Linked DNA regions of Homo sapiens. The protein of the gene in region 2 interacts with the protein of the main gene of each other region in a pairwise test. Each region holds a gene or a part of one and is shown on either strand. Other genes may lie near its edges.

The links.
Region 1: the proteins of RPS6KA3 (region 2) and SMS interact in a two-hybrid assay, tested with the Homo sapiens proteins (one large-scale study listed by BioGRID and IntAct).

Annotation. Positions count from the first base shown.
Region 1 is NC_000023.11:21,943,709-21,947,208, reverse strand, and holds part of SMS (spermine synthase), read right to left. Parts: intron 1-3,500. UniProt on the Homo sapiens protein: Catalyzes the production of spermine from spermidine and decarboxylated S-adenosylmethionine (dcSAM).
Region 2 is NC_000023.11:20,169,410-20,172,909, forward strand, and holds part of RPS6KA3 (ribosomal protein S6 kinase alpha-3), read right to left. Parts: intron 3,463-3,500; coding exon 3,337-3,462; intron 83-3,336; coding exon 1-82. UniProt on the Homo sapiens protein: Serine/threonine-protein kinase that acts downstream of ERK (MAPK1/ERK2 and MAPK3/ERK1) signaling and mediates mitogenic and stress-induced activation of the transcription factors CREB1, ETV1/ER81 and NR4A1/NUR77, regulates translation through RPS6 and EIF4B phosphorylation, and mediates cellular proliferation, survival, and differentiation by modulating mTOR signaling and repressing pro-apoptotic function of BAD and DAPK1.

The DNA.
Region 1 (3,500 bases), 1.8 Mb from region 2:
TGCTGAAGGAGCGGGAGGAAGGAAGCTTTCTCTACTCTTGAGAAAGCTAGATGCAATCTGAACTACATTGTTTAGGTTTTATTATTTAGACAGTTATAGCTATTTAAAACACACAAAGAAGACATGCTTCCACCAGAAGGCAGCTCAAATACAGGGGAGCGTGGGAGCTGGTTAAAAAGAGCGATGGTTCAGGAAATCAGGGAGGGAAGGTCACCTCAAACCACAGGCTCAGTTCAGTAGGAAGCAATGACCAAGCTCCTAACAGAGCCCAGTGCCAACCTTAGAGAAAGACAGGGCCCATCCTCCTTCCCTGCCTAACAATTTGTGGGCATAACTGACACTTCCAAGAAGGACCAGGGAAATTTTGCTGATGATCTGTCATCCAAATTACTGAAATGGTCTAGTATGAATTTAAACCAGGGTTTCTCTGCCTGGGCACTATGGACATTTTGGGCTGTCAATGCCGCAGGGGAGTTGTCCTGTGCGCTGCAGGACGTACTAGATGCTAGTAGCATCTCCCCAGTTGTGACAACCAAAACTGTCTCCAGAAATTGCCAGATGTCACCCACGGAGGGAAGCACCCACATTGAGAATCACCGCCTTAAACTAAGAGGCTTCAGAATCGTGGAAGCAGAACCAGCCTTCCAATCAAACAAACATGGCTTTGAATTCCAGCTCTGCCACTCAAAAAGTAAAAAACCTCAAGATTAGGCCTATTTATTTGTCTTTAAAATGGGGATAACAAGACCTACCTAGGGTTATTTTGAGGATTTACCTAAAATTAATGCACAAAGCACTCAGGGCACTTAGCCCCTGTGGCAATTACTAAGTACAACTTTTATGTTTTCAAATAGTTCAAAGAGCCGCTTTTGTTTTTGAAGAATAACTAGGGACATGTGCCTCCAGCATTGGCCTTGGGTGGAAACCTACACCCCCTAAAAGGAACGGGCTGTCTCAGTCCTCCCCCTCCCCAGCCTGGGGGTCTCAACCTGGGGTCCATGGATGCCCAAGGGGCCAATGGATACAATTCAGGGGGCCTGTGAACTTGAATGGAAAAAAACACACAGACTTATTTTCACTAATAGAAATTTAGCACTTTCTTCAGTTATGCTTGGAGGCCAAAAAATCACACACTGTCAACTACACCTGGTCATTGTCACAAAAAATCAGGTTTTTCTCCTTGCCTAACAATTTGTTAAATATCAATTTTGCTCAGCTCTACTTATGAAACTTACTAGCCTTGCTGCCACATCTTGTTATTTGATGTGTTAATAAAGAAGCACATGAGCTGGGCGCGGTGGCTCACACCTGTAATCCCAGCACTTTGAGAGGCCAATGCGGGTGGATCATGAGGTCAGGAGTTCGAGACCAGCCTGGCCAACATGGCGAAACCCCATCTCTACCAAAAATACAAAAATTAGCCGGGTGTGGTGCCGCGTGCCTGTAATCCCAGCTACTCTGGAGGCTGAGACAGGAGAATAGCTTGAACCTGGGAGGCAGAGGTTACACTGAGATCGTGCCATTGCACTCCAGCTCTGGGCGACAGAGCGAGACTGTAGGGGGTGGGGGGGGGGACGGGAAGCAAAGCACATGTTACCATACCACACGGTGGGGGTTTTGTATTTTGAAGATTGGGTTATTTCACGCATCTAAAATTCTTACTCTGAGAAGAGGTGCACAGGCTTCCCTGATGAGGGTCAAGGGTACAAAAGAACCCCCTGCCCCAAACCTTCTCCGCTAAGCCCGTAATTCCCAAGTAGCCTTCTGTTCTTAAATTATTAAACAAGGTTATAGAATTTGTGAATTTGAGCGACACAAATCTCCTTGTGTCCCTGCACAAATCATATAGCAATGGTCCAAATGACAGACCTAACAGTATCTGCCACGTTTCTGAATTCTGGACCATCCTCATAATTCTACAAGGTAAATGAGCATCTCACTTTCCCCTAATGGACATGAACCAGCATTCCACCTTTACCATAACATAAACTTGGTCTATTTAATCAGCGTGTACCAAATATCTACCATGTACCAGAGCTGTCTCCAGGATACAGACCCTGGTGGAGGTCTGCCTTCAAAAGATACGCCCAGCCCAGGGGAAAAAAATGGACATAGGATTGCTAGACCTTTTCAGAGCTGGCTGGCCTGTTAGAGACCTTCCACTCCAACATGGCAAGAAGAGGTTACAGCAGCTCACTCACCACTGTTTTTGTGTGCGGGTTTTGCTTTTTTGACACACAGTCTCTCTGTCGCCCAGGCTGGAGTGCAGTGGCACAATCTGGGCTCAGCGTAACCTCCACCTCCCTCGTTCAAGCCATTCTCTTGCCTCAGCCTCCAGAGTAGCTGGGACTACAGACACAGGCCACCAACACCCGGCTGATTTTTGTATTTTTAGTAGAGATAGGGTTTCATCATGTTGGCCAGGCTGATCTCAAACTCCCGTCCTCAGGTGATCTGCCCACCTCAGCCTCCCAAAGTGCTGGGATTACAGGCATGAGCCACTACGCCTGGCCCTTGTTTTGTTTTTGAGAGAGTTTCACGCCACTGTCCAGGCTGGAGTGCAGTCTCCACTTCCTGGGCTCAGGGGATCCTCCCGCCTCAGCCTCCCAACTAGCTGGGACTACAGGTGCAGAAAACTCACCACACCTGGCTAATTTTTTTTCTTTTTTTTTTTTTTTTTTTTTTTGTAGAGACAGGTTTTTCCCATGTTGCCCAGGCTGGTCTTGAACTCTTGGGCTCAAGCGCTTCGCCTCCCAGAGTGCTGGAATTACAGGCATGCGGCATCGCGCCGGGCCTCTCACTCACTCTCTGGATACCCAGGCATCCTGCCTAGCACATAGGGCTAGGAACAGATCACATTTCCTCCACCAACTCAGATATGCCTAAACTATCTGAACATGGGACAAGTTTATTCCTGTTAGCCTCAGGCTAAGTCACAAAATGTTTTTCGGGCTCAAGAGTCCTTATAGTCCAATACTTCACTTACAAGATGACCACAGATGAGTTGTTTTTTTAAAAGCAAAAATAAAAATTTCCTGGGTTACACCTCATCAGCCACAACACTAAACCAGCACCACCAAGCCCAACCTACAGTTGCTCTTGGTGGTCTGGTGGCTGCTGCGTTCCCAACACAGTAACAACATCATAACTAAGTGGTTCAAGTTTAATTCCACTAAAATCACATCATGGAACTGGAACATTAGAAAGGATTACTGACAAACGGGGAAAAGAACATGAATCCAGGCTCCACAGGCATTTGACTCACCCTTGAGTCACATCCAATATTCACATGCCAAGAGTAATGCCTTTTGACTCATTATCAATTAAGTGTTTCTGGAGACCTCACAAGTCGATTTTTCACCAAGTTCCCCTTACTAAAAACTAAGTGAACTTAGATCCCAATCTAGCCAGGATCTCTTTATTTTTCAAATGTGGATACTGACAGGACGATGTGCTTCACCCCAAATAAAGTGATGGAAGAGAATGCAATATGAATCGGA
Region 2 (3,500 bases):
GAGTGATAATGTTTGGATGCTGTCCATAACGAAGAAGAATTTCAATTTCTTCTGTTGGGTCTCTCTTGCTTTTATCAATAATCTAAAAGGCAAATGTTTATCACAAAACCTCATCAACTATACAGTTATAAACATTAATTGTTTATAGCTACAGACCTTGGGTATTACCTCATGTAAATAGTGTATAAATAAGCCATTTATCAGTCAGTTTTATTCAACTACCTGGCCAGATTGTTTAATCAGAAAGCCAGTCTTGATATAGATGGCAAGGCTGTAAATTCTAACTCATGAGTCGCATTCCCACCATGCCTCTCCAATCTAAGTTTGTAAGTTTGTAGTAAGTTTAGGACTTAACCAAAAACTCAAAAAGCCTCGAGAAAAGGTACCAAGAACACAGTTAACATATCTTTTCTTCTATCCTTGAGGCCTTAAACATTTGGGAACTCAGTCAACTTCTAACCCCCCATCAATACAGATAATTAAGAGCTAGATATAACACCACCACTAGCATCTGCTTATTGAATTAAGTTTACTTCCTTTAATAAAATGCTTCAATTGAATATCCTGTTAGCTGTAAGCTACTTATAAAAGCTAATTATCTGCTAAGTAGAACAATCTTGTTTTTGAAGTTAGGCAGAAAGCTACATAGAAAATCATACCTAGCATTTTATTTGGTTAGAATTTGGTTTAATTATTATAATAAAGCCCTTTAAAATAGTAATGTAGCTTTCTAACCCTTTTATATTGGCTGCTCCTTAAAAATATTTTTCTTAATGTTTTAATCTGCTCAACTAATATTATATAAAAAAGACAAATTTTGCTTTCTATTCATTCAAAGGGTAGTCTGAAACAAATTAGGTGGCCTTTGTATGTTCAATTTTAAACAGCTTAGTAATTAAGTATGCACTAAATACCCAGACACTCCAGCAACCTAGGAAAGAGGTTACAACTCTCAAGCATGGGTCCAGTCTTCTATCTGAAATGGATTTATAGTTGACCCTTGAACAACACAGGTTTGAACTATGAGGGACCAATTACACGTGGATTTTCTTCTGCTTCTGCCACCCCTGAGACACCAAGACCAACTCCTTCTCTTCTTCCTCCCTCCTCAGCCTACTTAAGGTGAAAATGATGAGGAAAAAGACCTTTATTATGATCCACTTCCATTTAATGAACAGTAAATGTATTTTCTCTTCCTTATATATATTTTTTCTTTTTTTGAGACAGGGTCTTGCTCTGTTGCCCAGGGTGGAGTGTAGTGGCGCAATCACGGCTCACTGCAACCTCAAACCCCTGGGCCCAAGTGATCCTCCCACCTCTACCTCCTGAGTAGCTGGGACCACAGGCACATACCACTACACTCAGAAAATTTTAAAAATTATTTGTAGAGATGAGGTCTGGCTATGTTGCCAAGGCTAGAGTACAGTGGCACATAGCTCACTGCAGCCTGAACCTCCTGAGCTCAAGCAATCCTTCCGTCTCAGCCTCCTGAGTAGCTGGGACTACAGGCACATGTAGCCACGCCTGGCTAATTTTTAAACAATTTTTCTGTAGAGATAGGGTCTTGCTCTGTTGCCCAGGCTTGTCTCAAACTCCTGGCCTCAAGCAATCCTCCCACCTCGGCCTCCCAAAGTGCTAGGATTACAAACGTGAGACACTATGTCTGGCATGATTTTCTTAATAACACTTTCTTTTCTCTAGCTTACTTTATTGTAAGAATACAGTATATAATACATATAACATACAAAATAATCGACTATATATGCTATCAGTGAGGCTTCTGGTCAACAGTAGGCTATGAGCAGTTAAGTTTTGGAGAGTCAAGTTATACGTGGATTTTCAACTGCTTGGGGATCAGCACTCCCAAGTCCTGTGTTATTCAAGGGTAGACTGTACTTGTATAACAGTTCTGTATTTGGAGAACAGGGAAGGTAAACATACAGGTGCCCACTGTAATCAACTGCAAATGATAGTGTGGAATTAGGCAAATGGGTGATTAAGAGGAGAGGTATATGGAATAGACATGCTAATTTAAGAGATGACCTGGGACTAGTCTTTTGAAAACCAGAACACACTGGGAGGGGTCGTTTTTGGCATGGATCTGCTAATCTGAGCCCAGTTTGCATTAGATCTATACTTGTGCTTGTGGACCTCAAATATGTGGTAATTTCAGTAGAATCCAGTTGTGTTGGGATTGGTTTTATGAATCATTTAAGTTACAAAAATCCACAAATAGCTTGGAGATATTTTTGAGGTTTTAGGCATAGTCCTCAAGGTTTCTGTAATTCAAAGGGGCCTCAGGACATTTCTGCTTTTTATGATGTATTTATGGAGGCAAGACACATCCTTAAACTGCCTACCAAATACATTATTAGTCTTTTCTCCTTTCATGTAAGCAATTTGAAAACTTCTATGTATCTTAGATTTCAGTAAGAGCAATGAATAGGAAAATAGAAAATTAAATGTATTTCTTTTAAGAATTTCCTTCTTTAAAATTAGCTTTATTGTCCTTCCAATGAAGCAAATTAAATGTATTTTTATGGTTCATCCTTCTATCTGACAGAAAGCCCTATAGACACTGACGACTTTAAAGCAGTTACATCTAAGTTTAGAAGAGTGATAACAACTAATGTCACTATCTCTCTAAACATGAGCTATGTATATTTATAAACCAGTCCTAAGGTTCAAACAAGTTGAAAGCTTTAGACATTGTTTGAATTGCTTGAGATTGGAGAGCAGAGGTTACTATTCCAAGAAGTGAAAAGAGACTTGAACATAGTGCTTGTTCACTTACGACTAAAGGTTTGAAATTCAAACTTTATCGTAGAGCTAGGTTCCTTGGTTTTTGGCTTAGAAAATTCTGTCTTAGGATACTTGATGAAATTAAAACAGCCAATGATAACGAATTTTATGATAGTGGTTTTTATTCATTAGTTCCCAGATCCTTTTAGATGCAAAGAAAGGTATGAACTTTTTGCCAGAGAAGATGTAAACATACAAAATTTTGCACACAATTTTGAGGAATTTGCTGACACCCTGAGCATAAAATGGGGACTTCTCAGAGTAAAAAGATACTTTAAAAATCACTTGAGGTAAAAAAAGAAAAAAAATCACTTGAGGTGTAAACTGCTACTGCTCTGGGAAAACTAGATATATAACCACCTTACCTTTAGCTCACAGGGTTCTAGATTAAGATCTCTGAAGATCACTAGCCAGATATTTAACTTTTTTATAACAAAAGGCACTTTTAACAACAAGGGGAGTGTAATTTTTAACTGGTACTGACATGCATGAACAAGAACTGTATGAATTGCATTTTAAATAAAAAAAATTTACCTTCACTGCAAACTCCATGTTTGTAGCTTTATGTATACATCTCTTGCAAACAGAGTAGGAGCCAACTCCAATATCTTCTTTTACTTCATATCCATCAGTAAACTGAATACTGTTCCTGTGTAACTGCTACAAAAAATTATAAATTGGTGAAGAGTCCCATAATG